Homo sapiens: one gene and its partners. The protein of the gene in region 5 interacts with the protein of the main gene of each other region in a biochemical or structural test. Each region holds a gene or a part of one and is shown on either strand. Other genes may lie near its edges. The genes, in order: MAGI1, GRID2IP, HTRA3, LDB3, UNC93A, TJP1 and SNTG2.

Region 1 (4,257 bases), on a different chromosome or scaffold from region 5:
GGTCATAAAACACCCTATGTATACATTAAAATATTACGTAAGAATTAAATAGAAATAACTCTTTTACTTTAGTGAAGTAACAGAGTGGTGTATAGAACAATTTCATGTATAGTAAGTATTTTCTTATGGAAATTGCATTTGTTTTAAAAAACAAGATATTCATTTTAAAGCCCTGGACCATTGCTGAGTATTGAAAGTAAAATATCAGGTTACTGGAAAATGAATTAATACTTTTAATGCTGAAATATCATAGGCAAATTCTAGAGTAAAGCAGTCATTTTGGCAATGAGATATATGATTCATTAACATAGACTTTTTGTCATCACCATTGATCTTAAGGATTTGGAGGCCTGGCTGATTTTGGTAATAGTATTGAAATCCTAATAAAATTTGTACAGTCACCCCTCAGTGTCTGCTGGGGATTGGTTTCAGGACACCCGCATCCCCCACCAAGGATATAAAAATCCATGGATGCTTAAATCCCTAGAAAATAGCCTAATATTTGTGTGTAACACACACACACACACACACACACACACCCCTTCCTATATTATTTATTTGTTTGTTTGTTGTTTGTTTATTTATTTGAGACAGGGTCTTACTCTGTCACCCAGGCTGGAGTGCACTGGGGCAATCATGGCTCACTGCAGTCTCAACCTCCCTGGCTCAAGTGATTCTCCCACCTCAGCTCCCGAATAGCTAGGAGTACAGGCACACACCACCATACCTGGCTCATTTTTTATTTTTTGTAGAGACAAGGTCTCACTATGTTGCCCAGACTTGAATGCCTGGGCTCAAGCGATTCGCCTGCCTTGGCCTCCCAAAGTGCTGGGAGTGCCACTGTGAGCCACTGCACCCCACCTCCTATATACTTTAAATCATCTCTACATTACTTATGACATCTAATACAATGCAAATGCCATGTAAATAGTTGTGATACTGTATTACTTAGGGAATAACGAGAAGAAAAAAATCTGTACGTATTCATCACAGCTAAAACCATTGTAGGTCTAACAAATTTTCTATCTGTGATTGGTTGAATCTAAGGATGCAGAACCCACAGATATGGAGGACTGACTGTATGCAGAAATACTAGGATGTTTTAGAGTAATTTTTGGCAAAAATGATCTAACAAAGCCTATTAGCATTGCTAGCCTTAATTATTTTAAGGAAGAAGAAAGTGACTTAAAGATAAATCAGAAAGTCTGTTTAAACCAAGCTGTTCTCTTTCATCCTCTAGTAGAGGAAACATCTGGTGACTTAACATGACTTCCGAATCCTTAGATCTGGCTTCAGAGGTGACTCTGACTTAGCCTGAGTGTTCTTGGACATGGACACCTGCTTTGTGGTGTGGCACATAATAATTTTAATTTACTTAATTCTCCTTGCAAGAATACTGAGGAAAGCAGTTAATGCTGACTATTTGTAGTTAAGGATCATGGCTTGGGCTTGATTCGGAATTATCAAACAGTGATGGGTCCTGTGAAGAACTTTAGGGCTCAGTGACTATTCCCACTGTTTATCCCCGTGTCTTCCATTATTTCACCTGTTCAGAGTATTTTGTTTCTTTGCCTATATTGAAAATCTTCCATCTGATCAAGCACCACCATTCTTGTCCTGCAACTGTGTTCATCTTGGGGGTATCATTGCTTTTATCAGTAAAATAATCCTTCTCTTTTTTCTCCCCTCTCTGCAGTTCCAGATTACCAGGAACAGGACATCTTCCTCTGGAGAAAAGAGACTGGATTTGGATTTAGGATTCTGGGTGGAAATGAACCAGGGGAACCTGTGAGTCTTTTGCTTGTCTCTCTTCCCAGCATATTTTTCTAAGGCTTCAAAGCAAATTGGCGACAGTGACAAATCACCAAGATTTAAGTCCAGCTAGATGCAACACTGACTCTTTAATCTTGAGTAGTGTGGGTTTCTCATTGGGTTTTGTGGAGCTCTCTTTGTCTTGAGGAAGAAGAGACTAGATTCTTTCTAAAAAGTTTGTATGAGTGTTTGTGAAAGGTGGGAGCTGCCTCTGTAGACCACCCCTTTTCCCCCAAGGGAGATGAAAACAGAAAGCAAAACAGGAATAGGCATCACCTAATATCACAGTGGCCTGGTCCTTCTGGCCAGGTCCCTTCACTCTGCCAGCAGGTAGTAGGCTTTGTATGTTGAGTTGCTGGTGTGCAGAGAGTACTTCGCAAAGCCTTATGAGACAGTGATTGGAGAATGTCAGACCCCTGCCTTTACAAAACTTGAGAAAGAACCCTGAGTAAGGGTCAAGAAACATTGAACTTCCCTGGGCCTCAGTGTCCTCCATTTTGGAATAAATTTAGAATAACATAACAGGGTTCCTTTGAAGGAAGAAAAGAAAACTGAAATAGGTATCGTTAATTTCCTTGTGGTAATAACAGCCATTATTCATCGAGCGCTTACTATGTGCCAGGTTCTGTGCTAAAGGCTCTTAACATACATTCTCTCATTTATCCGTCAAACCCACCAGTTTATCCCGTTTTCACATCAAGGAAAAGAAAGGCTAACTAACTTGCCCAAGATCGCAGAGCTACCAAATGGAGGGACTGACAAATAAGGTCTGACTCGAGTTCATGTTCTTAGCAACTATTTTGTCAAAGTTCTTTGTAAACTATAAATGCCACGTAAAGGTAGCTATAGCATTATTGTCTGCTGGAAAGGCAAGGCAGGCACAAATATTTTAGCTAAGGTTTAGTGAATGGCAAATATAACAGCAAGACACTAACTATAAAGAGTGCTCTGCTTTCGGGTGCTAAAAGACTTCAAAAATGGAGATGTCCAACCAACTTTTGCTTCATTCATTCATTTAAGAGTATTTATTACAGATTCCCTATTCCTAGGCATGATGCTAGACCCTTAAATAAAAGTAATATTAATATTTTAATTAGCAGAGTTTTATGGAAAGAGAGTTTTTAGGTAGCTACCAAAGAAGAATAGGGTATATAATGAAGGGAGAAAAGTAATTTATATCTGCAAAGGGGAAAAAGAGAGTGAGTCATCAATAGGCCACAGATAAACATCTGGAAACTAAGCAAGAAATACTCTTTCCACCATTTAAGAATTGTTGCAGTGCTTAGCACAATGTCTTGTACACAGTGGGTGCTCAATAAATGTTTGCGGCATGCCTGCAGACATGAATGAATGAATTGTTCCCAGAGATGTGAAGGCTATTGATGTAACAGTAAACATAGGAGAGCAATGTTTCATCCATCGTTCAATTACTCAACAGATTTATATTGGTCACATCGTACCACTGGGTGCTGCTGATACTGACGGCCGCCTGAGGTCTGGAGATGAATTAATCTGTGTGGATGGGACGCCAGTAATTGGAAAATCACACCAGCTTGTGGTCCAGCTTATGCAACAAGCTGCCAAGCAAGGCCACGTCAATCTCACGGTGCGGCGTAAAGTGGTTTTTGCGGGTATGTATTTCATTCATTCCTTCAGACAGTGCGTTGTCACTTTATTCACAGAAAAGGCCTCCTTCCTGTGTCTGCCTCCTTGAGCGTCTATTTTAGCAAATGTTTGCAAATGTGATCAAGCTCAGAATTTCCAGATGGCTTGCTTCTCTCAAACCCTGCAAAAATTACTGTCATTCTAAAGTACTTTAATGTGCCGTTTGCATGTGTTCAACAAAGGCTTCCAGAGGAAGGCTAGTTGAATATATATTACTTCCCTTCTATCTCCTTGCAAATCAGAACTTAGCCATCCTCTTCATTTGATGCTAATCCTCAGCAAATGAGGTCATTATGAAAGTCAGAAGAGTTGTAGCTTCATATCAAGGGAACAAAAATCGGGTTTGTGCTACAAAATAAGCTCATAAAAAAGTTACTGATTTCTTACTGTCCTATGTATTAAACCAAGATTTTTTTTTTTTCTTTCTACAAGAAAGTTGTAGAGCTGGCCAGTTCTAGGTCAGCTTTGATTCCTTCTTCCTGCCCATAAGCTTTGAACTTTAATTCTCAAAATACTACATATCCTTTCAGGCTCAGCTCAAATATAACTTTCTTCCCTTGGAAATTCCTCCTTCCTCCAACTGCCTTCAGATTTTAGCATTCCCTCCTTGCCATTCTAGTGACTCATGGTTTACTGCTGTATCAGAATCTGCCATTTTGAGACAGTGAATTGTGTGAGTGTTTGTCCTTTCCCTTGAAAGCTCACGTTGAACACACCTTGGTTGTTCACCTTTGGATGCAGCTCCCACCTTGAAACCTTTAAGGCAGAACCCAGAGTGCA
Region 2 (4,257 bases), on a different chromosome or scaffold from region 5:
AGGCGTACCCCACCATGGCCAGCTATTTTTTTTTTCTGTATTCTTAGTAGAGATGGGGTTTCACCATATTGGTCAGGCTGGTCTTGAACTCCTGACCTCGTGATCCATCTGCTGCGGCCTCCCAGAGTGCTGGGATTACAGGCGTGAGCCACCGCATCTGGCCAACTTTTTTTACATTATTTTGATTTTTAATTTTTGTGGGTACCTAATACGTGTATATATTTATGGGGTATCTGAGATACTCTAATACAGGCATGCAATGTGAAATAAGCATGTCATGGAGAATGGGGTACCCATCCCCTCAAGCATTTATCTTTTGAGTTATAAACAATCCATCTACACCGTTTAAGTTTGTATTTATTTTTTTTGGAGCCAGAGTCTCGCTCTGTTGCCCAGGGAATACAGTGGTACGATCTCGGCTCACTGCAACCTCCGCCTCCCGGGTTTAAGCAATTCTCCTGGCTCAGCCTCCCAAGGAGCTGGGATTACAGGCCCCCACCACCATGCCTGGCTAATTTTTGTATTTATAGTAGAGACACGGTTTCACTATGTTGTCCAGGCTGGTCTTGAACTCCTGACCTCAGGAGATCTGCCTACCTCGGCCTTCCAAAAGTGCTGGAATTACAGGTGTGAGCTACTGCACCTGGCCTAAGTTATTTTAAAATGGACAATTAAGTTATTATTGGCTATAGTCACCCTGTTGTGTTATCAAGCTCACAGACTTTTCCTCCGTGGAAGGGAATCTGCTCAGTTCTGCCCCAGCAGCACTTGGCCATGGGGTTTGGGAGGTCAGGGAGCCTGGAAACTTTGTCGGAGTTTGACTATTGCAGAAATGCCTCCCAGCCCACTGCCCAGGCATCAGGTCCCCACCCACTCTGGCCTCCTTCAGTGCCCAAGCTTGGTCCAGTCCTAACCCCTTCCAAATTAACCCCCTCAGGAGTGTCTCCTCCATCATGTACCCTAGCCTGATCCCCTGAATGGGCTTTTCTGACCCTGAGTAGACCAGCCTCTGTGGCCAGATACACACACTCGCATACACACAGGACTCAACTCCAGCTTCCCTACATCACCAAAGTCCAGATCTTCCAAAGCTGTGACTTTCTTCCTGTACCCACAACAGGCTCTGCTGCTATAACAAACAAACCCAACATTTTTTATTGTTGTTGTTTTTGAGACAGGGTCTAGCTCTGTTGCCCAGATTGGAGTGCAGTGGTACAATCATAGCTCACTACAGCCTCCAACTCCTGGGCTCAAGTGATCCTCCTGCCTCAGCCTCTCTAGTAGCTGGGACCACAGGTGTGCACCACCACACCTGGCTGATTAAGAAAAAAAAAAAAGACTGGGGAGATGAGGTCTTGCTATGTTGCCCAGGCTAGTCTCAAACTCCTGGCCTCAAGCAATTCTCCTGCCTCAGCCTCCCAAAGTGCTGGGATTATAGGTGTGAGCCACTGTGCCTGACCCAAAATCAACAACTTAGTGCGTTTGCACTACAGAAGTTTACTTTTCACCCACAGAGTCCTCTAGGGGGTCAGTAGACTTTCTAGGGTGGCTTGATGTCCATACGAGGTCTCAGCATTTCAGACTCCTCCATCTCTATGTGAAGCTTCAGGGTTCCCTATGGAAGAGGAAGAGAGCTTGGAAAATTGTGCATCTCCTCTTAGAACAGCACCTGTCCTCAATGCTCATTGGGCAGAACTAGGTACACTGCTCCTCCCTAAGGATGCTGGGAAATGTAGTCTAATGTGTGTCCAGGAAAGAGGGAAGACCTAGAAATATTGGTGAGTGCGAGTAATGCCTGCTACAATCCCAGATCACCTGCCATGGAGCCAAAGGTCTATCCCAGACTCCATCTAATCCCTGCAGAGTTGGAAGGGGGCACGTTCAGAGCTCCAAACAGGGCAGGATGCAAGAGAAGACCTGCCCAGGAGCAGGGCTGGGCAGCAACCCGCTGAGGGTAGAATCCGACAGGCTGCCCAGGCCAGCTGCAGTGTGTTTTCTGGCAAGGAGGAACGGGGAAGTGGAGGATTTTGGTTAGGGCTCGCTGGGCACCCACAAAAGCTGAGAGTGAATCTCCAAAAATGACTTCCTCTGGAAGATGAAGGGCCTCCGTGGAGCCCAGTTGGTTTTCTATCTTTTTTTTTTTTTTTTTGAGACAGAGTTTCGCTCTTGTTGCCCAGGCTGGAGTGCAATGGCGTGATCTTGGCTCACTGCAACCTCCGCCTCCTGGGTTCAAGCAATTCTCCTGCCTCAGCCTCCCAAGAAGCTGGGATTACAGGCATGTACCACCACGCCCGGCTAATTTTGTATTTTTTTTAGTAGAGACAGGCCAGGCTTGGTGGCTTGGCTGGGCACGGTGGCTCACACCTGTAATCCCAGCACTTTGGGAGGCCGAGGCAGGCAGGTCACCTGAGGTCAGGAGTTCAAGTAGAGATGGGGTTTCACCATGTTGGTCAAGCTAGTCGCAAACTCCTGACCTCAGGTGATCCACCTGCCTCTGCCTTCCAAAGTGCTGGGATTACAGGCATGAGCCACTGCGCCAGACTGGTTGGTTTTCAATCACCAGCCCTCCAGTTCTCGCCTGCGCTTTCTGCCTGCCCCAGTTTTTCCTCCTTGAAGTGGCTGATATTTAATAGAAAATCCATTAGTGTCCCGTGATGATACCTCATGCTTAGATGTAGGCTGAGAACATCTGGGTAATAACTGACACCGAAACCGCACTGTAGCACGGGCCCCAGGAGGGAGGAACTATTTTTTCCTCTTTCTTACATAAAACATCTCTGCAGCCAGCCATGTTCTCCTTTGAATTGAGGTTGCTGCTGACTTTGATTTCCAAACTGGCAACCTTCCCCAGCACGGCGCGTGCGTGGGGAGGGGGCGGCTGGTGCTGCCAGCCTGGCCCACTCACAGGGAGGGAAACAGTGGTGAGCTGGGGCCTGCAGGAAGTGCAATGCAAGGCTGCTTTTTGATTCAGTCCCATCCACATTCTCTGAGTGCCTAATATGTGCCAGGCGCTGTGCTTGGGGCTGGACAAGCATGAGACCCCGGATCATCACACCTGGGTGGGGGAGACAGACGGTTACACAGACTCATGGTGCATCTGTGCTAGGATTCAGACGTGTACAGAACGTGGCCTCTGACTGGAAACCCTCGAAGCTTCCCGCTACTTCTCCTCCCCTTTTGGAATCATCTAGAAAGCGGGTGGATATACAGTTCCAGAGTTCAAGAGCGAGCTCTCGGCTGAAGATCGAGGTCTGAGAGTCACTGTCTGGGGTTCTTCGCCAGAGCTGGGTCGTGGAGAGCCTCAAGTGCAATAGTGAACTGCAGTGGCAAAGGGCAGTGGTACAGAAACAGCACGTGTAGACGGCTCCAGACTACAGAAGGGAGGAGAATGAGCAGCTTTCAGGATCAAAGGAGGATTGTCTTTTATTTATTTATTTATGGAGACAGGGTCTTGATCTGTCACCCAGGCTGGAGCTCAGTGGTGTGATCATGGCTTACTGCAGCCTTGATTTCCCGGGCACAAGAGATCCTCCTACCTCGGCCTCCCAAGTATCTGGTAGCTGGGAATACAAGCGTGCACCACCATATCTGGCTAACTTTTTACTTTTTCTTTTCTTTCTTTTTTTTCTTTTGAGATGGAGTCTGTCTCTGTCACCCAGGCTGGAGTGCAGTGGCGCGATCTCGGCTTACTGCAAGCTCCGCCTCCCGGGTTCACACCATTCTCCTGCCTCAGCCTCCCGAGTAGCTGGGACTACAGGCGCCCGCCATCACGCCCACCTGGCTAATTTTTTTTCTATTTTTAGTAGAGACGGGGTTTCACCGTGTCAGTTGGGATGGTCTCGATCTCCTGACCTTGTGATCCGCCTGCCTCGGCCTCCCAAAGTGCTGGGATTACAGGCATGAGCCACCGCGCCCGGCTGTCTTTCATTTTTTAGAGACAGGGTCTGGTTATGTTGCCCAGGCTGGTCTCCAACTCCTGGCCTCAAGTGATCCTCCCGCCTTGTCCTCCCAAAGCTCTGGGATTATAGGCATGAGCTGCTGTGCCCAGCTTGTTATTTATTTATTTATAGCCTGAGAGAGACTTGAACATTTATATAAGCTGCAGGGAATGGAGAAGTAGATATACTGAAAACCATGCAGGCCGGGCACAGTGGCTCACACCTGTAAACCCAGCACATTGGGAGGCTGAGGCGGGTGGATCACCTGAGGTCAGGAGCTCGAGACTGCCTGGCCAACATGGAGAAACCCTGTCTCTAC
Region 3 (3,500 bases), on a different chromosome or scaffold from region 5:
CAGAGACCTGCACAGGACCCGAGAGCCCTGTCGCCACCAGAGCCCACGGAGCCAGGTGGGGAAATGGGGCCTGGTGGGGAGGGGAGGCAGAGAGTGCAGGTGGGAGGCTGCTGGCCATCTCCAGGGCGCCGTTCACACTGTGGGCGGTGTGCAGCCCTGCCACTGTAGCCCGGTGCACGGGGACCTTGGACAGCCAGCTTTCGGCAGGGCGACACGCAGAGTCCACTCCCTGTGGAGGCCTTGGGTGCCCGGCCTCTCCCCAGCCCTGTCTCATTTCCCACGGCAAGCCTGGTCCTTTCCCAGGCACCACAGATGTGCTGCTGGAGGCCAGGAAGGGTGAGGGACTGCTCTGAGGTCACATGGTCAGGAAGTGACCCGGCTGGGCCTGGCCTGGGTCTGGCTGGCTTTGCAGGCTATGCTCTGTGGGCCTCCTGGCTTTTCCTCTGCAAGGGGTGGCAGGGCCCCTGAGGCTGGGAGTCGGGTCAGGCCTGGGCCCCCGGCTCCATCAGGCTCAGCCTCCATGGAGTATTCCAGCAGCGTAGCCGGCTTCTGCCCTCCCGAGGTCCCAGCCAGAAGTTGCTGGGTGCCGGTCACACTTAGTGGTGTGCCAGGCGCTGCCGGGCATTTCTGGGAGGAAGTCCTGCCTGATGAGGGCAGCCTCCTGTGGGCTGAGGTTCCTTGTGCTCTCCTCTCCCCTCCCCATGTCAGCTCCTCCGCCTTCTCCCACCCTCTAGGCAGGAAGGTCTCCTTGGTCCCTTCTCGCCACCCTCCCCCCCGCACCCCCGCCCCAGTAAGCTCATCTGCCATGAAGTCCTCCCCAGGTGCTGGGACTTCGGGCCCTATCTCCAGCCCCCGGGTCTCTCCTGAGTTAGAGTCACGTGGAGATGCCTGCTGAGCCGCCTCGGGCTCTACTCTTCCCAGCCCCACTGAAAGGAGCACCACGATGTTCAGTGGGGAGCCTCGATCCCCTCCGTCCCTCCGCCCCTCATTCCCCTCTTCCCCTCACTCCCCTCAATGCCTGCTGCACTGTCACAGTGGCTCATCAGTTTGGGACTTGGTGTGGGGGTACCTTTCCTGGGCCTGCCCATTGCAGCCCAGCTGTGTGGATGGGGGCCCTTACTCCTCTCCACCCCTCATTCCTCTCTGCCTCTCACTCCCCTCCACCCCTCATTCTCCTGTGCACCGGGAGTCCCCTCAGCTCATCCACAAAACATCTCCTGGGGCGCTCTGACTTCCCCCTCCATCCTCCCTTCCATCACTTCTCACACAGCAGCCAGGATCACCTTGGTCAATCTGTCCTGCCCATGACCTGCAGGCTTCCTTGCAAGGCACCCCAGCACTTACCTTGACTCACAGGGCCCTGTGCCTGCCACCTGGCCCGCATCACCCTCGGTGCCGTCTCCCACTGTCCCCTCATCCCCTGTGCTCTGGCCTCATGGCCTCACCGGTCTCTTTCCCACCTCGAGGCCTTTGCACGCAATGTGCCCACTGCCCGGCGTTTCCTTCCCTTGCCTTAGCGTGGTGGGTTCCTCATCCTGCCTTCACCCGGATGTCCCACCGCCCCTGAGCCACCTGCCCTGGCCACTGTGCCCAGGTCATCCTTCATTGCTTGGTGAGCACACCCAGGGTCTCCGGTGGGCCCTGCACACAGATGTGACTGTGGGTCAATTTCTCTGCGTGATCCCCATCTCCTCCAGGCTCGAAGCCTCGCCGGGCAGGGGCCTGGGCCAGTGCGTGGCCTCTGTAGATGACACGAAATGAGACGAGGGCCCATGTGATGTGTGAATCTCCTCTAACCCTCTGGGCCCTTCTTGCATCCCTCCAGTGACAGAGGCTCACCACTTCTCAGGGGAACCCTCGCATCTTCTCAGGTCCATGTTAAGGCATCGCAGTTGCACAGAGTGGATAAATGTCCATCCACGGGATGGTAAAAGCAGGGATAAATGCGTTTCTGAGGGCCTGTGTGGAGAAGGGTTTCCCTTTGCGCGTAACCAGAGCTCTGAGGCCATGCAGCCTCTCCTCTGGCTGCAGATAAACAGGCCTTGGAGCCTGCCATGCGCTCAGAATGTAGAGCCCCAGAGCAGTTTACAAGGTGGCATTTAATCACCGGCTTTTATTGTGCAACCCCAAGCAGGTTCTGATGGCATCTCCCGGTTGTATTTATTGAAGAACTTGGGTTGGCTTTTGATTTGTAATCCTCTTAGCAGCTTCCTGGGGCTGCACATGCCTTGGAGTTCAGCATCTGGGACCACTCAGGCAAGATGACGCCTCCCCTCCTGCCCCGCCCACTCCCGCTGGGGCTGCAGTGCTGAGCCACAGCATCTGGCGGCACTGGAGGACTTGGAACTGCCGGCAGAGCTGCTTGGCCAAGAGCTTTCGCCAAGGCTGCCAGGAGCCAGGAGTCCAGCCGGACTGGAGCTGAGACCAGGGCGCTGTGCAGCTGCCCTTCCTGCCGGGGCTTGGCCTAGCAAATGCACCCTCACCCCATCTGCCATCCTGTGGTCTTCCCCCGACAGGCCTCTGCCCTCCCATGCAGCCCCACACAGCAGCCTGAAGGGACTTGGCGAGACCCGGACCCTCCCTGCCGAAAGCTGGGCCATGGCTCCCACGGCCTCAGGACTAAGCATAGCCTCCTGGCAGGCTCGCAGGCTTGGTGACCCCAACCACTGCCTCCTGCCCACATCACCACAGCCGCAGACCCCTGTGAAACCCCCATCCTGCATTGTGAGGGACCAATGACAATGCATGGAGCCCAGAAGAGGAAGAAACCACCTTCAGAGTGGAGAGAGGGCTAGATCAGGAGGGCTTTCTGGAGATGGGGGCGTCTAGTTGTGGAGAGGTGGGTACAAGGGGGCCTGTGCACCCTTGGCCTCCCACAGGCTCACCAGGGCCTGCCAGGTGGTCTGAACACCTTCCGCCCAGGCTTGCTTTGAGGGAGGGAGGCCACCAGGTTTCACAAGGGTGAACGGTGTGACACTGGGCACTGTTCCAGGCCCACAAAGCCTTCAACACATCATTGGGGTATTGATGTCCTGGTCCTGTATGAGAAAGGGTTCAGGGAGCTGTAGGAAGCTGCCCTCGGTCACTCAGGTAGGGATGGATGGTTCTGCCCTGAGCCCAGGTCCCCTGGTTCCCCAGCCAGTGCTCTGAATACCAGGCAGGCCCCTAGCAGCTCGAAGTGTCTGCCTTGTTTGGTTTTGATGAGGGTGTTTGTGGACTAATGGGTGGGACAGGGTTTAAAATCATAGACCGCTGTCCTTGGTGCAGCAAAGATATGGCGAGGACACGTCCATATGTTCCCCAAGCTGAAAGCCAGGTCTAGTGCAGGGGTAGCAGGTGACTCCCTGGAATTGTGCAATGTACAGCCTGCCCACCTGTGTGCATTACCCTGCTCCAGCACATAATGGGCAGAGCACCAGGACTGGGACCCAGTTCTGTCCCTCATGTCTGGCTGCTCAGGGTGGAGTCCCAGCTCTGCCCCAGAAGTCTCTGAAGCTCTT
Region 4 (4,257 bases), on a different chromosome or scaffold from region 5:
TCGGATTTTGCAGAGGAGGAAACTGAGGCTCAGAGAAGGTTAAGTCACAGTCCGTTTGTCCAGCTACCATGTGGCCGAGCCAGTCCTGAATTCAGGAGATTCTGACTTCCAACACTTTTTCACTAGGCCACTCCCCAGAACAGGACAGCACAGCCTGCAGCCTTCAAGAGCTATGCACAGGTCCCCACCCCTCTGGGAGCTCGGAGGCAGGAGCAGGGGAGCGTTCGAGAGGTGGAAAAGCGAGTTATCTGGGACTAGGAATAGTCTGGGAAGCTGCCTGGAGGAGGGAGCCCTTGAATTGTATATGGAGAGACTCTTTGGCAGTGGCGTGCAGGGAGCGGGTTTGCAGGAGTGACCTTGGCCAGGGTGGGGTGGCGAGGAAGCAGGACCCCAAGGAGAAAGGGGCTGTGCAGGAGAACAGCAGCCTCACCCCTAAGGTCTAGCTGGCGGGACTCTGGGAGCACAGCAGGTAAAAGGACATGGGACTGGGGCACTGTAGGGGGGAGGCAAAGGAACGGAGTCCCCACACTGGGCCTGTGTTAGCTCTGAGCCCTTCACGCTTGTTCTCTCACCCTAACTTCTACTCCCGCCCTGTGCAATTGGCATAGCCCTCTCCAGGCAGGGCAGGCTGAGTCAAGGCAGTAGAGCCTAGTGGTTCAGGGTTCCTCCTCCGAATCATGGAGGAATCACACTGTCCATGTCTCAGGGTTATTGGGAGGATAAAGGGCCCAACACTTGTAAAGCTCTGAGCTTTGTCTGTCACCCACTCACTGCATGACACCTGGTATCATCACTGCCTGGAGCCACCCAGAAGAGTCACAGTAGGAATCCGGTCAGTCTGGCCCAAGCCCATGCCCTTGCCTTTGCCCTTGCAGCAGAAGGCACCTGTGCCCCATCAGGTCACTGCTCCCTGTGGCCCTCAGCTTCCCCACCCCCCCAGCTCTTTCTAGAATCCTCAGTGAAGCTGATTTCTGGCACCACATGGCTTGCTTCCCTTACCCAAGGTGACAGAGCCATATATGCCCCCAGGGTTCCCCAGCAAAGGACTTTTGCCAGAAAACTCAGGGAATAGTAGAACAGAGATGACCTCCTTGTCCCGCATTTGTTGGGCTGGTAGGTCTTCCCGGTCCTTTTCAGGAACTGGCCTCAGGCAGAGAGGTCAGCCTCTGGTGGCCTGGGACTCCCAGGAGACCCACCTGCAATGATGATAATGTCTCCCCATACTGACCATGCACTCTGGCTATGGACCAGCTAACAGTCCACATGCCTTATCTCTCAGCAACACTCTCTAAAACAACTCTCTCTGCAACTCCAGAGGTGGGCATGATTTTCCCCATTTTATAGCTGGAAAATAGACGCTCAGAGAGAGCAAGTAATTTGCCCAAGGTCACACAGCTAGTAAGTGGCAGACAGAACTGGCATGCAGGTCTGCCTGACTCCACTTTGCATTGAGACAGGGACTTGCTGCCTGCTCAGGGAAGTGAGGGGCCAGGCCCACCTCTGCTTCCCATAGTGCCTAAGGTACTCTGCTGTCGGTGCAGGGGCTGCCCAGACCCTGATGAATGTGTAAATTATTTCTTGGTGCTCAGAGCAGCAGAGTCTGACGTTTCCTCCAAGGGATGGTGGGCTAGGGGAGGATGTGCAGTGGGTGCTTCATCCAAAGTAAAAGCTGATGCTGCTGTCTCAGGCAATGCCGGCAGGAAGGGCTGGAGCCTCTGACCTGGGCTGGCCTAGGGCAACCTCTGCTGGGCTGAGGCCACCACCTATGCTAAGTGGGTCAGCAACAGGGTCAGCAAGGGCTAATCCCCGTGCTTATCCATGGCACACTTCTCCCATGCTGAGCACCTTAGACTCATGACCCGTTCAGTCTGCACAACCCACCTGCGGGGTAGGCACTACCATCTCAAGAATTAGAATTAGGAAACAGGCTGGGACGGGTGGGTAATTTGCCCGGAGTCACAGTGCTAGGAAGAGGCAGGGTCACAACTTGAACTCTGTCCTGTCTGGCTCCAAAAAGAAGCCCCTTCCGCTACTCTCTCCTCTGGGCAACTTGCAGTGCAATTCTTTGGCACCTCGTATCCTCTTGGAAGGAGGAGAGAGAAACAGATGTGGTGCAAGGGCAGACGGGCATAGGCATCCCAGCAGCCCCCTTCTTCTCCTCCCTTCTGAGGCTGGCACTGAAGGGCAGTGCCCCTCAGGCCACTCAGTGCAAGGGCCCCTGGGCAGGTCTTACATCTTTGGCTCATCTTCCCCAAGACCCAGGCACTGGCTCCTCTCAGATGTGTCTGCTGCCACCATCCCGGCCCCAGGTCCTGGGTGGGAGAAGCTGAGCAGGAGGCAGGAATAAATGTCAAAGAAGGAGCAGGCTGCCAAGGGAGGGCAGAGGCAGCCCCCACCCCGCCAGGCCAACACTGCCCTCTGCAGGGGGCCCTGGGCTGGTCAGGGCAAGAGATGACCCTGCAGCTGTCAGCACTGGCCAAAAATGGAGAAGGAATGGAGCTCCGTGCTGGCCCTTTCCTAATATAGCTCCACTTGCAGCTATTTTGAGCCTGGGAGGATAGAGGGAATTTTATCAGTTCTGAGGCAGTGGCGGGCCTGGGGCAGAGCAGGGCCACTGTGCTGCTCCCTGGGACCGGGGACCACTGACTTGAGCCTGGCTTCCCAGGGTTTGGCTGCAAATGACCAGGGCCAGGCTGGCCGGGGCCCAAGCTCCCCCAGCTACAGCCCACACTGGGCAGATTCAAGAAGGTGGCAGAGTTTGGGGACAGAGCCCCCCACCTTCCACACTGTCTCCCTCACAGGCCCCCGACAGGGCTGCTGGCCACAGGGTCTGCCACTGCAGGGAATTTGCATTTAAAGAAACACAGGACAGACACTGCTTTCCCTACAGAGACCATGCTCTGGGAGGCTCACTCTCAGGTCAGAGTGAGAGGAAGGGGCCTCTCACTGTGCTGCCTCGGCTGTTGAGCTCACACTTCTCCCTGCGCCTGCTCGCTCCTCCATCCTGCCTCATTGCTGGCCCAAGGGGCCTTTAGGAGTGGCCCCTGGTGACTGTGCACCCCACTCCCCTATACCCCAAGAGGAGCAGCCAGAGCTGCCTGCGTCTCTTCTGGGAGGGAGAGGAGGTCAGGTTTGGGGGGGCATAGGAAACCCCGCGCACACCCTGCCTCCTTACCACTGCAATGCCTGCTCAGGACAGAATTCCAGAGCTGCCCCCACAAAACAGACTCTTAGTCCGGAGCTGCTGACAGGCAGGGAGGCCCCTGGGCCTCAGCCTTTTCCATAGCAGCCACAGCTGGTCCTGTCTCCACCCCTAGCTTCCACTCTGGGGTCTATAGCCAGGTTTGTATGTGGGGGATTCATGTATGCGGTACGAGTGCCCCTGAAGATAGACAAGAAAACCCTTCTTCTGGCAAAGCAGAGGGCACTGGGGACCCCTCAAGAGGGAAACATTGCTGTGTCAGTCTCTGAACCAAACCGAGGGTCCCAGTAGCTGTGATTCCCGGCTCTGAGTTCTCCCTCCTCACTCCTTGCTCTCCTCACCCATTGCGGTTTGGGCTGGTTCTGCCTCCACAATGACCAGGCTGATGATGGCCCCGGCGCTCAAACTGCCCCTGGTGGAGCCTCTCTCTGACCACCCTGTCTTCTTTGCCCTTTTCCTCCCCAGGTGGTAGTCAACTCTCCAGCCAAGTTAGTATCAAAGGACAGCATGTGTGTGCGCTTGCGTGCCAGCCCCAGCATGTGTCTGCGTGTGTCTGGCGTGGATAGAGTGTGCCTGCTGGCATGTGTACATGTATGTGCATATGTATGAGTGGGGTACACTTGTACCCCTGGGTGAGCCTGCATGTGTGAAGCTGGAGTAGAAGCATTTGGGGGTGGGAGTGGGGGCTCCATCCGATGGTTCTAATTTCATTCCCAATTTCCTGCTGCAGCAGCTGCTTAAGATGTGCCTGGGGTTGGTGACGGTGGCGGGCGCAGGGGGAGGGGGACACAGGCTGTGCTGCTGCTGGGCCTGTGTGAGCCTGAAGACCTTTCTGTCCTGGCGACCCCTCAGAAGGGCTGCACTGGATCTTGTCTGCCCGGGGAGCGCACCTATCCATTGGAGGGAAGAGCCTCCTGTGGGTAGAGGATGGCCAGCTACTCAGCAAACTGGACTTGAGGGGGCCTGGGCAGCTGGAGCCCTGCTCTGAGGAAGAAGCACATTCCCTGAAGCGTCTGGAAGATCAGAGCCCTGGGCCACCAAGGGGGTGGCCTGCA
Region 5 (4,257 bases):
CTTCTTCACAATCTCGTCTTGTGGGCCAGGACTTCAGTGTCAAGCAGCCCAATAGGACACAACCTACAATCTCCCCGAAAGCCTTGTGGGAAGGGGAGAGGCAGGTTATGAACACAGAAGCCACACCCCTTTGTTCAGAATTATGTATGTCCGGGTGTCATGTGACTCAGAGCCTTCTGTGGGGCATGAATTGGGGGATGCTGCACAGCTGTGTCCTAAATTCTAAAGAGAATGGCTCTTTGCAAGAAACTTGACTATGAATGCAATGCTCAGAAACCCAGGAAAGTTACCCAGGGAGAGGGTGTTCTTGTTCTTTTAGGTCCATTTTTCTCTCTTCCTATGTTTTTCTTTATGGAGACATGGTCTTGCTTTATAGAAAAGGACACACACAGGATCCTGCAGGACTGTTACAATCACAATAGTAAGACCACTTCTTCATTTACATGTGTGTGATCTCTGCTCTACATAACTTCTAGACTTGGACTCCCTTAGGCTGCGGGATTCCGTGAACCGAGATGGGGCTGTGGCCAGAGAGCACACTGGGGGTAACCCTGCAGGGGAGGTTCCACAGACAACAGCCACCTGCGGAGGACAGCTGGCAATGAAGGGCCTGGAAGCCACAGAGAAGCCTGTGCTGTTCCTCTAGAGCAGGGGCCAGCAAACTATGGCCTGCGGGCCAAAGCCTGCCCACTGCCTGCTTTTGAAAATAAAGTTTTATTGGCATGCAGGCATGCTCATTTGCTTACATGTTGTCTATGGCTTTTTCCCATTACAAAGACAATGTTGAACAATTGCAACAAGGACCATATGATCCTCAGAAAGATACTTACATGTAGGAATATTTGCTGTCAGCCCTTCACAGAGGAAGGCTGCAGCCCCCACTCCAAAATTCTGTTCTTTTATAGATAGGAGAAGTCTTTGTTGGTGGCTGCCTAACTGGAATTTGTGGAGCTGGAAGGAGACCTGATGGTCTTGACTCAGCTCAATGTCCCCGAGTCCCCCAGCCTCCTAGTTATGTAGAGGAGGTGGTGAGGGGAAGTGTTGGGGAAGCACAGGCCTGGCTGGTCCCTGGGACCATGTTGATGGGAACCTTGGGGCCTGCTGGGAAAACATGACCACAATTCCAAGTCAGCAGAGACTTGCAGACCAGAGAAAACCGTGGCTCCTCCTGACTCCCTGTCCACACCTTCCACTCACTTCTGAAACCCTCAGTCTGGGCCTTGCACACGAGCACCCTCCCCAGGTTGCTCGCCTGATGGGCATCAACAGCCTCTCACTGGCTAAGAGCCTCGTCCAGCCTCCCCCCTGAGCCTCCTAGGGGCCCTGCCACACTCAACACTCTCAAACCCCCTCCCCAGCTGATTCTACAACCCTGGTGTCCTCCAAGACCCTGGTTTGGTTTTCTGTCTCCTTCCAAGGCTCCAGTTGTCTGCCTGGCCCTCAGTGTTGCTGAACCAGGGGTCCAGCTATACTCCCTTCTCTGTAACAATTCCCTCTGCTTTTTCTCCCTAAGAGCCTCATCCCTGACATGATTCCAGTCACCATGTTGGAAGATGCCTCCACGTCCACACTTGCATTGGCCTCTGGCCTGAGCCCTGCACGGCGTCAGACTGCCCACTGGACACTATGCAAGAGTCCCACTGCGTCCTCAAGCCAGGTGTTCCCGGCCTGAGCTCATCTTCCTGTCAACCCCAGGGCTGTCTTCTCTTCCCCACACCATGTCCAACCCACACGGACCCTGCTGGCCTCTCTCTCAGCCCCTCCATCTCTGCCTCCCCGTACCTGCTCCCTCCTCTGGACTCAGCACTCCGTCCTCAGTGGGTCTCTGCCCGCTGTCTCTCTGCACCTCTAAGTCACGCTGGCATGGGGTCTGTCAAGAAGGCAAGTCTGCACTCGTCCAGACCCTTTGGCACAACATCAAGGGCCACAGCTAGTCTTGTGCCCCATTTCTGCCCCTCCACCTTGCCCCCAGCCCTGCGGGCTCTTCCTGGACATCTCGCCTCCAGGGACTTCAGCATCACTTCCCTGCCTGGCCAAATCTTGCTCATTGTCCAGACTCGGCTTAGGGACCACCCGCCCTTGGAGGCTTTCCTGAAACTCCGTGCTCCAGGGAGATGCAGCTGCAAGTCAGCTGGGAACTGTGCTCAGAACACTGTCGGACTGGTCTCGGTTAGTTGGGTGTGTGTCTGCCTCCTTCACTAGGCTCTCAGCTTACTAAAGGCGAGCTTCTAGTCATCTGAATGTCTGGACCAAGAAGGCCTAGCATGGCCTAGCACGTGCTCAGTACACTTTGTCGACTTCCAGCGATAGCTTTACAAGTGCTCACTCAGAGCCTCTGATGTGGAAGTGGCCTGAGGGGACCTGAGGTTGGTGCCGCACATCATCTCAGCATGAGGAAAAGCTCTGCAGTGCCCACGAACCCTCCTCACCTCTGACCCCGGCAGAGTGCAGGAGTTGGTACCCCCAGAGCTCACAGGTGCCAGGCCTTTGATCTTTAAGAAGGACCCATTCCAAGGCCTTTATGAATCCCCAAATCCAAGAATGACAAAGAATATATATATATATATATACATATAGAAATATATACGTGTATATGTATATGTACATGCATATATAAATATGTGTGTGTGTGTGTGTGTGTATTTTTTTTTTTTTGAGATGGAGTCTCGCTCTGTTGCCCAGGCTGGAGTGCAGCAGCGCGATCTTGGCTCACTGCAACCTCCACCTCCCGGGTTCAAGTGATTCTCCTGCCTCAGCCCCCCGAGTAGCTGGGATAACAGGCATATGCCACCATGCTCGCTCAGCTAATTTTTGTATTTTTAGTGCAAATGGGGTTTCACCATGTTGGCCAGGCTGGTCTCGAACTCCTGACCTCAAGTGATCTGCCCGCCTCAGCCTCCCAAAGTGCTGAGATTACAGGTGTGAGCCACCATGCCCAGCCAAAAAAAAAAATATTTAAATTATTTACAAAATGGTTTTTAAAACTCTCTAAATGTATCCCCTTCAAAGTTGTAATAAACCTTTGACTATAACACTGAAGTCACATATGAAACTATTACATAACATTCTCTATTAAAATGAACTTCTAAGAATGAGCCTCGTCATGACAATTAACTTCCTTTGGGCAGCCCTTTCACCATGAGCTTGCAACGTCTCCAGCTAAGGTGCAACAAGCACTTGGGAGCACTCGCCCCTCTAGCCTTTCCACAGAAGGTACTCAGCACATTTCTCAGAAAAAAAAAAAAAAGTGGCTTATAGCAATTATGGATGTTCAGGGCCCCTTGGCCACAGCTGAAACACAAACAGTCAATCCCAGTGCCCTAGCCAGCCACCAAGCTGTCTGTAATGGTAGCCGCCAGCCCCCGTACTGCTGAGCACTTGCAGTGTGGCTGGGAGACTTAGGAACTGAAACTTTAATCAGTTAAGATGTAAACAACCACAGTGCTTAATGGCTGCTGTGTTGGGCTCTGGAGATGTATAACAATCTCATCACCCCAGGATCCTCTGTTAGACAGCACGGGTGTACTGCATTTGATTCATAAGAACACCGCCTGCATATAATCCAGACCAATACATTTTGCAAGGATATTTCAGAAGAAGAGAGATTACTTTTACATTGGGAGAGACAGTCTTTGTCAGCCCAGGAAGGAGGCTTGGCTCTGCTTTGCTAGGGACCCTGCCCTGGGCCGATGGAGCTCGTACCAGTGTAGATGCCCAGGAGGGTGTAGACCAGCTGCTGGGAGGGCCTCTGGGTGCTGTTGGTGGTTGTGGTGGCCATCAGGCAGTCACTGGCCCCACAGGACGTGAGCTGCTCTTCTGGAAGGGTCTCTATGAAGTCAGAGTGGACAGGAGACATGAGATGACGGCAAATGTGACAAGATGTAGGTTCTTGAGAAATCAAAGTGACAGTGGAAAGGACATTGGACACCTGGGGGGAGGCATCACTACAGGTCACGTGGAAAGACCCAGTGTCTCAAAATAGATTTAGATCGAGTCTAGGCACATGTCCCTAGACTCGATTTAAGACACTTTGGGAGGTGGAAAATCCTATTCGTGTTCTGCAAAGATTCAGGGAAGAATGAACTTGGAAAAGTGCTGGTTACTTGTTTTACTGCTTTTCTGACATAATTAAAATTTTTCAAGTTTTCAAAATTAGTCAAAAAGAAAAAAGTACATGAGATTGGGTGCCAGGAATGCTGGATTCTCTTTCAGATTCATCTGTTACCAACTCAATGACTTTGGGCAGGTGATTTCATA
Region 6 (4,257 bases), on a different chromosome or scaffold from region 5:
AGTATACCATGCCCTGTTTTGAGCTTCATTCACTCAACAATTACTGAGCCCCTACTGCATGCAAGGCAATGTTCTACACCCTAAAGTTATACATCACAAATAAGCTAAGTCTTCTTTCTAGAAAAACAAATTAACACAGAAAGCAAACATGCATTTTGATTGATTCCCTGGCAAAACAACTTACTTTTTAGACCTAAATATACTCCTTTTTTTTTTTGAGATGAGTCTGGCTCTGTCGCCCAGACTGGAGTGCAGTGGCGCGATCTCGGCTCATTGCAAGCTCCGCCTCCCGGGTTCATGCCATTCTCCTGCCTCAGCCTCCAGAGTAGCTGGGACTACAGGCACCTGCCACCATGCCCAGGTAATTTTTTGTATTTTTAGTAGAGACAGGGTTTCACCATATTAGCCAGGATGGTCTCGATCTCCTGACCTCATGATCCACCCACCTCGGCCTCCCAAAGTGCTGGGAGTACAGGCGTGAGCCACTGCGCCCAGCCTTTTTTTTTTTTTTTTTTTTTGAGACAGAGTCTCACTCTGTTGCCCAAGCTGGAGTCCAGTGGCACGATCTCGGCTCACTGCAAGCTCTGTCTCCCGGGTTCACGCCATTCTCCTGCCTCAGTCTCCCGAGTAGCTGGGACTATAGGAGCCCGCCACCACGCCCCGCTGATTTTTTTGTATTTTTAGTAGAGATGGGGTTTCATCGTGTTAGCCAGGATGGTCTCGATCTCCTGACCTCATGATCAGCCTGCCTTGGTCTCCCAAAGTGCTGGGATTACAGGCACGAGCCACTGCGCCTGGCCATATAATCTTTTTAAGGTTGTATTCTATTTACCAAATATGTAAAACGATAAATAAGAGATATCTTTAAACTAAACACCTGAGCCTTCTTCTGACAGGAATGAATGTGTTTAACGGTGTTTAGTAAAAATAATAACTAAAGGGTACACCCTTCTGCCTTACCAAAGGTGAGCTCCTATGGCTCAGTGCCTAGCTCACTTTAGGCTAGTCACCATTTAGATGTTACTGTGATAACTGTGTAAATGAATTCCTGTAACACTGTAAATGTAAATGAATTCCTAATGACAAATCCACATCTGTTTTTGTTCTTGTGGGTTTTGTTCTGTTGAGGTATGAACCCAGCTGTGCACCTGTGTGGGTTTATATTGTGCTAGCTCACTTCAGTCCAGACACCATCTAGATGCCACAACCCCTTTCTAGTGTTGTGCTAAGGGGTGGTTCACAACACTAGTACAAGACACGTTTTGCATTTAATACAACCCCCACTGCAGCACTCTCAGTTTGCATTTGGATTCTCATAAACTGCTTTCTTCTGTAAACATAAAGCCTTAAATATAGGACAGTGAAAAAAGTCTTCACTACAAAGGATGTCTTAGAAAAAAGCAGTGGTAATTAAAATTAGGTTTTAATGTTAGTGGTTTTAAAGTATGTTCTAAAACAATTTACACTCAATAGTAAATGACAAATAGGTCATTTCCCAAGATAATCCCAAGCCCACGCAACTAAGTAAGGAAAAATCTAGGTGCTTTTAATATAGACACAATACTATGTGTGATGAATTCTAATATGTCAATCTGGCTAGGTACTGCCATGAAGGGATTTTTCAGGTGTAATGTCCCCAAGTCAGTTGAGGGGAGATGGTCTTGGGAGGGCCTGGCCTAATCAGCAGAGCCCTCTGAATGAGAATTTAGGCCTTCCCTGATCTCACACTCCCCAGTAGCTCAAAATCTTCCCTTCCTGACCAACTGCCCTCTGAAATAGGACTTGCTTAGCCAGCCCCTGTAACTGTGTAAATGAATTTCTTTTGACAAATCCACATCTGTTTTTGTTCTTGTGGGTTTTGTTCTATTGAGGTATGAATCTACCTGTGTGCCCGTGTGGGCTTAGACACAACTATCAGTACCAAATTCTCTTATCAGTCAGGGTTCAACCAGAGACACAGAACCAGTAGGAGACACAAACCCACGCAGGCACAAGAAAGGAGAACAAACCAACACGAAACCCAGGGATGAGTAAACGGAGGGGAGCAGCAAGCACAGGGAAAAGATGACTGGGAGTCAAGAAACTTGGGGTTCAGTCCCAGCTCTGCCCTGTCATTTTCCCTCACCTGTAAAACTGGATCAGAAATCTTACAAAAACAAAAAACAAAAAACCTCTTCAGTATTTCCCTCAAACAGGATCCTCCTCACATCTGTATTTATATTTAAAAAATAAAAACAGAAAAGAAAAAGAACCAGCATGACATCATTAGGTGTGTGTACAGAAGTGAAGACTGATGATTACCTATCGATGAGGGTCCTTGTGGTTGACACTGTCTTCCGTCAAAACCCTGTGATGTTAGCATCTTTGTGAATGCAAAAACTATGTACATCTAATAGCAGACTTTAAAAACAAAACACACATCCCAGAACTAAAAAGTATGTACAATGCTGAACCACTAGAGCCTACAGAAATCATATATTACACTTAAATTATTTTTCTTCAAAATATATTGAACTGCACGGGATTAATATGCTGCATCCTATTTTTAAAAGCCAGGTGAAATAGCTTACTTTGAAGAATAACTAGAAAAATTTGATTGATTCTGAGAATGCGCTGGCTTTGCAGGCTCGGAGAGATGGCTGGCGGCAATGTGTGCAGGAGGCTTATTCTCAAAACTTCTTCGGTCAAAGTATGACAGCTGTTTTCGATAATATTCTTCATCTTCTTCAGGGTCATAATGATTGGACCGAACAATATCTTCAGGTGGCTTCAGTTGAGGTTTTTGAGGTTCTGGGATCCTAACAGATAATGAATGACAAACGGAACACCTTTTTAAATATTAATGTTATGAAGGAAGTAGAATATGTAAGTCTTATCTTGACTAAAAGGTCAATAATTACTAACTGCTGTGATTACTGAGGATCTGAGCAGTCCCAACAGTTAAAATGGATATTTCAAATCCCATGTCCTCACAGAGTATACTCAAAAGGCAGCCCCCTTCTGGCTCATGAGTCCTTTAACACAATATAATAAGCTAAACGATTACATGATTAGGGAACAGCAGGTTAGAAGTAGTTAATCAGAAAGACAAAGGGCAATGTAACCGAGACAGTGAACATCTTGAGAAGTACATATACCAAGGTCAAGAACAGTAAATGATAGACTTTAAGAACTTTCAAAGGGATTTTTAAGAACTCAGTCCAGGATCTCAATGATTCTCATATGAACAAATAACTCTATATGGTCTAAAGTTCTAGAAGGCATACAAAGCAGATGAGGAAGAAAGCAAGTCATTAAGTAAATTCATATTAGACAGTTCTCTTCTTTATCCTAAGTGCAAACATATATTCAGTCAAAAAACAAAATCAGAAGAGCTGTATTCAAATCTAATCTGTCACTTATTGGCAGTGCAATGAGGCCATGGGAAAAAGCTCAGGCTGAGGAGCAGCAGGCCAGGTTTCTCTTCCAGCTCTAAGTCTTGTAAGCTACTTGCCCCTCTCAGCCTCAGTGTCTCTCTCTACAATGCAGAACAACAACAGTGTCACCTCATTATGCTGATGTGCTTAGCACAAGGGCAAGCACCTTATGCATGCTCACTAAATGATTTAGTTATCTTAACCAATCTGAGTCTGTTTCCTCACCACTGGAAACTAAGAGTTCACATGTCGAAAAGCACTTTTAAAACTAAAAAACATAATACAAATGTCAGAGCTTAAAAATGTTTATTTAATCATCTGCTTGGAGAATATCTTTCCGAAAGTCTGCTAAAGGTATAAAGATTTGTCAGATTTGTCAGAAATAAAGTTCTACTTTTTTTCCCCCTAGAATCACTGTTTAGGAGAGCTGATAGTTTTTATTTAAGGACAAACTCCTCCTATTCACACCTCTCCTCTACTAACACAGTAAAAGGTTTTCTTATTGACTAAGAGGGTTAAATTCCTGGTCAGTTCTATGCCACAAAGAGCACAAAGTGTACTCACCTGTACAGAGTTTTGTCATGTTCACTGAATTGATTCTGAGAAGTGGGTTTGGGACCAATGATGGGAGCACCTGAAGGTTTAGATGCTACTTCTGGAGGCTGTTTAAAAAAAAAAAAAAAAAAAAGACAAATATGCCTAAGGAACAGATAATTAACAGAATAGATATCATGTAATGGCGGAGGGGAGAGCCAAGAAGCCTTTTAAACGGTGTGCCCATGCATCCAAGGCACTAAAGACATATTTACCTTAAAACTGCCAGTGTCATTTACATCCTTCT
Region 7 (4,257 bases), on a different chromosome or scaffold from region 5:
GAATGTAGTATATTATACGTATAACATACAGAATATGTGTTAATTGACTGTTCATGTTATTAGTAAAGCTTCTGATCAACAATAGACTACTAGTAGTTAAGTTTTAGGGGAGTCAAAAGTTATGCATGAATCTTCAACTGCGTGAGAGTTGGCGCCCCTAACCCCTGGGTTGTTCAAGGCCCAACTATAATGAGCCATTCAATGGGGGATGTGCGTTCCCACATAAATATCTTCCAAAAGTTTTTCTTTATCAGTTTTGACATTTAAGTTCAGTGGATAAAGAGATACTTTCTGCACCATAAGGTCAATGATGAACATGTTGTTCTTGGTTTGTGACGTGTAACCCTATAGGTTCCAGGTATCCCAGCTGAAGGAGACGATCCAGAGGGCCCCAGAATTAAAGTGCAGTTTCTGTACTCAAGGCTCATTTAGGGTTAGCAACGTATGCACACTACACACATTCACGTACACACACATTCATGTTCACATACATTTCCACACATACACATGTTCATGTGTGCACACACATTCTCATGTGCACACATACACACACACATGTTCTCACGTGCACACACCACAAGGCATTTGATGTCTGGATGATGCACAGGGATAAATGTGCAATGCTCTCCATGATCAGAGGGTCATCCTGCAGAGCCATCTGCGGGGCCAGGAGAGCCAGGGCATCCCCCCGGAGAGTCCAGAAGGCCCACCTGAGACACACCAGTCGTAGCTTTTACCTCAAACCTGTGCCTAGAGTGCATGTGTCAGCATATTTCAAGTAAAACTATTTGGCCAACTGCTGAGTTCATGTGGATTTTGGGACTGGACCTTGAGCGTAAGTGTGAGTGGGGACTGTCCAGCTTGGCTGGTTGGCACAAGTGAATGGAGATATCTCAGAATCATGATGGGAAGACCCAGCAGGTGGGCAGCTCCCCTTCCTTTCTGCTGCCATATGCAGGGCTGTGGGTGAACACCACATTCTCATTCAGGACTTTGGAAACCCCAGCCCAGGTGTCTCCCCTTGTTTCCCTTCACTGGGGAGAGACTGGTGCAGCAAAATTGATGTTGGGGTGCAGCGTCCCAGGAAGGTGTCTGGTGGGGGCTCTTCAGGGTGGATCTGTGGACCAGTAAATGAATGGGTGAGCTGAGAACTGAGGTGGGTCCAGAGAGAGACAGACAGAGACAGAGAGAAGGATAGAGAGAGACAGAGAAACAGACATAAAATAGAGAAACAGAATGACAGAAATGGAGAGAGAGAAAGAGACACAAAGAGAGACAGAGACATAGAAATGGAGACAGAGAGAGAGAGAGAGACAGACAGAGACAGAGAGGTGCCAGCCAGGTATTGAGTGCGCGTTCACCATGCACCTCCATGCTGTTGACCTAGTAATTGTGACAACTGGGACCCCCAGTCTTTCTCTTCTGCCCTTGATAAAATGAATCCCGAAGTGGGGTGCAACCTTGCAGATGGGGGAAAGAAGTGGGGAGCTCCCCAGGCTGCTCCATGCAGCACAGGCTGGCAGCATCCGAATCGCCGAGTGATTAATAGACGTGCTGTAAGTAACTTACATCTCTGGGTTAAACGATTAACCAGAAATGGAACAACATCATTACATCATTCCCTTTGTCAGGCCTTTGGGTTGGCAGAATGAGCTCCTGGGTGGCCGGGTGCCTTGTCATGCTTCAGAGGCGTTTTGGGCACTCGGTCCTTTATCTCAGGACAATGAACCCGCAAGGAGAGGAAGAGCCAGTAATTCTATAGAGACTCGGAGGCGCAGGGGGCACGCTTAGTTAGAGTGGTGGTGGTATTTTCAGTGTTTTCTGGTTTTATGATAAACACAAGCATCAATGTCTCAAGACTTTCATCTTTATCTTTTTTTTTTTTTTCTTGAGACAGGGTTTCCCTCTGTCACCCAGGCTGGAGTGCATTGGTGGTGTGATCTTGGCTTTCTGTAACCTCGGGCTTCTGGGCTCAAGCCGTTCTACTACCTCAGCCTCCCAAATAGCTAGAACTACAAGCGTGTGCTGCCACACCTGGCTAATTTGTTGTATTTTATTTATTCATTTATTTTTGTGAAGACAAGGTCTTGCCATGTTGCCCAGGCTGGTCTCAGACTCCTGGGCTCAAGCAATCCACCCACCTTAGTCTCCCAAAGTGCTGGGATTACAGGCGTGAGCCACCACACCCAGCTTCATCTTTCTCTTCACCGTAAAACAGGAAAGTGTGTGGTGACCAGTATTTTAAGGGAAAGGCACTTACAGAGAATTAAGCATTTGACAAAATTTATTTACAGATATTTGTCTGTGGACCACTTCCGCACCAGCTGTGCATGAGAGGGCTCATTGCTCTGAATTTGCCTCCTTGTCTGCACCCAGGAGACCGTTTCCCAGATCACGCAAACGCTGCCTTCTCCCCACACCAGGGCCCTCAGCATGGGAATGACCTTCCAGCGCTGCACGTTTCCAATCCATGCTCTGTTTTTCAGTTCTGGCTCACAGAGGACTGCTGGTTGCAAGCAAACTTGTATCTGGGTCTTCAAGATTTTGACTTTGAGGACCAGAGGCCCTATTGCTTCAGCATCGTGGCCGGCCATGGGAAGAGCCATGTTTTCAACGTGGAGCTTGGCAGCGAGCTGGCCATGTGGGAGAAGTCCTTCCAAAGAGCCACGTTCATGGAAGTTCAGAGAACCGGGGTAAGTGAACAACTCACACTCTTCTCACCTACACCTGCTCGGGTGTCTGAGACATAGCATTGGGGAATATGTAGCAGTTTATCGGGGGAAAAGAGGAATCTTCAGAAGGTGAGAATCTTTCACCGGAGCTACTGTGTGGAAATGATCGTTCGCACGGAGTCATGCGCTCCGTGGATAAATATGAGCTGTAGTGGAAGGGAAGGGGAGGAGAGGATTTTGTGTCTGTGTCTACATTGAATGTGAGGAACGGGCTGCATCGCTTTCCAGGAAGGGACTCCACCGATGTGGCGCTCAAGTTCCTGAGAAGTGATGACACTTCTAGCCTGTGCTCCGGGAGACAGAACACCTAGCTTACAAATGAGTATAATGTGTCGTGCAGTTACTTGGATGTTTGTAATATTTTAAGGCACTTTAATGGTTCTTCCTCTCAAACTTGATGGTCCGAAGGAGAATATAAAACAGCTTGTGTGTCTGAATTGCTTTTCTCTTCCTGACAACAGCAAATACATCACTCACAAATTTGAATGTATACCATGTGAAGGGATGAGGAAGAATGCATTATAATCCTCCTTATCCTAAATAGCGGGATGATCCTTCAGGGAGGATGTGTGCTGCAGGAATGAAGAGTGACAGGAGATAAATGAGGCAGCGCATCCCAGAGGAGCTCTGACTTCACACCAAAGTCCAGGGCTCCCGCCTGGCTGAGCGCGGAGAATGCTGAGTGTGAACTTAGTAACTAAAGATGGCTACTTCATTTAAATATACATATATACCTTGAATGTGAAACTATTCTGTGTTATTTATCTTTCATTCACGTTGTCAAAATGTATCCAGGCTCCTTGGCATGCCATCACAGAGCACGAAGCTTCCCTGTAACTAATGCACACTGAGATCTCTTAGTCCACAGAATGAAGTCACACCCAGATCTTCATAGAAACTGATGCCAATGTTTATTCTCATTTATCCCAGGCTGCTGTGATTTTCCCCTCAAATTGGGCACCCTAAATTGGAATTATGGTTGATTCCTGATGCTTAAAGTAACCTTTATATTTGAAGCATCCAATTCATTAACCATTATAGAACATTACATGCTGGAAAGAAAATTACTAAACATAGGATCCTTCATCTCAGGGACTTACTCAAATGTATAGTGGCATTTAGCCACTTAGAAACCATCAGCACTAAAGGTTCAAGTCGTTAAAAGGCAAAGTGAAAGAGCGTTTCTGGGACAAGGTGACCTTTCTGCTTGTTTTCTTTAGATGATAGCAGTAATCATTTTGCTTTCAACATAAATACCGGAGAAGTAGAGAGAATTCTCCATTCGCGTGTGTGTGCAGGGCTGCCCCACACCCTCTAGTGCCCCAGGGCCCATGCCTGGCTGAGCAGAGTCCCGGTGGCCATTCAGACTCATCTATGGGAAGGTGACAGGTTACAGGAGAAGATATCCTGAATAAGAGCAATCATAGAATTACAGTGTTGGAGGGAGGGTGAAAGGTTAGTAATTTCATCTAGTACCCAGATGTAGTGAAATGAATGTCTGAAGCATTCTAGAGGGTGAAAGTTT

Evidence for each region.
Region 1: the proteins of UNC93A (region 5) and MAGI1 interact in a test that uses a peptide from one of them, tested with the Homo sapiens proteins (one large-scale study listed by IntAct).
Region 2: the proteins of UNC93A (region 5) and GRID2IP interact in a test that uses a peptide from one of them, tested with the Homo sapiens proteins (one large-scale study listed by IntAct).
Region 3: the proteins of UNC93A (region 5) and HTRA3 interact in a test that uses a peptide from one of them, tested with the Homo sapiens proteins (one large-scale study listed by IntAct).
Region 4: the proteins of UNC93A (region 5) and LDB3 interact in a test that uses a peptide from one of them, tested with the Homo sapiens proteins (one large-scale study listed by IntAct).
Region 6: the proteins of UNC93A (region 5) and TJP1 interact in a test that uses a peptide from one of them, tested with the Homo sapiens proteins (one large-scale study listed by IntAct).
Region 7: the proteins of UNC93A (region 5) and SNTG2 interact in a test that uses a peptide from one of them, tested with the Homo sapiens proteins (one large-scale study listed by IntAct).

The regions. Positions count from the first base shown.
Region 1 is NC_000003.12:65,381,063-65,385,319, reverse strand, and holds part of MAGI1 (membrane-associated guanylate kinase, WW and PDZ domain-containing protein 1), read left to right. Parts: intron 1-1,696; coding exon 1,697-1,788; intron 1,789-3,250; coding exon 3,251-3,443; intron 3,444-4,193; exon of another isoform or gene 4,194-4,257. UniProt on the Homo sapiens protein: Plays a role in coupling actin fibers to cell junctions in endothelial cells, via its interaction with AMOTL2 and CDH5. May regulate acid-induced ASIC3 currents by modulating its expression at the cell surface.
Region 2 is NC_000007.14:6,544,462-6,548,718, reverse strand, and holds part of GRID2IP (delphilin), read left to right. Parts: intron 1-4,257.
Region 3 is NC_000004.12:8,272,754-8,276,253, forward strand, and holds part of HTRA3 (serine protease HTRA3 isoform 1 precursor), read left to right. Parts: intron 1-3,500. UniProt on the Homo sapiens protein: Serine protease that cleaves beta-casein/CSN2 as well as several extracellular matrix (ECM) proteoglycans such as decorin/DCN, biglycan/BGN and fibronectin/FN1.
Region 4 is NC_000010.11:86,682,011-86,686,267, forward strand, and holds part of LDB3 (LIM domain-binding protein 3), read left to right. Parts: intron 1-3,667; coding exon of another isoform or gene 3,668-3,690; intron 3,691-4,257. UniProt on the Homo sapiens protein: May function as an adapter in striated muscle to couple protein kinase C-mediated signaling via its LIM domains to the cytoskeleton.
Region 5 is NC_000006.12:167,297,516-167,301,772, reverse strand, and holds part of UNC93A (protein unc-93 homolog A), read right to left. Parts: intron 3,829-4,257; coding exon 3,703-3,828; intron 1-3,702.
Region 6 is NC_000015.10:29,714,041-29,718,297, forward strand, and holds part of TJP1 (tight junction protein 1), read right to left. Parts: coding exon 4,226-4,257; intron 4,079-4,225; coding exon 3,981-4,078; intron 2,799-3,980; coding exon 2,571-2,798; intron 1-2,570. UniProt on the Homo sapiens protein: TJP1, TJP2, and TJP3 are closely related scaffolding proteins that link tight junction (TJ) transmembrane proteins such as claudins, junctional adhesion molecules, and occludin to the actin cytoskeleton.
Region 7 is NC_000002.12:1,264,879-1,269,135, forward strand, and holds part of SNTG2 (gamma-2-syntrophin), read left to right. Parts: intron 1-2,486; coding exon 2,487-2,693; intron 2,694-3,193; coding exon of another isoform or gene 3,194-3,217; exon of another isoform or gene 3,218-4,257. UniProt on the Homo sapiens protein: Adapter protein that binds to and probably organizes the subcellular localization of a variety of proteins. May link various receptors to the actin cytoskeleton and the dystrophin glycoprotein complex.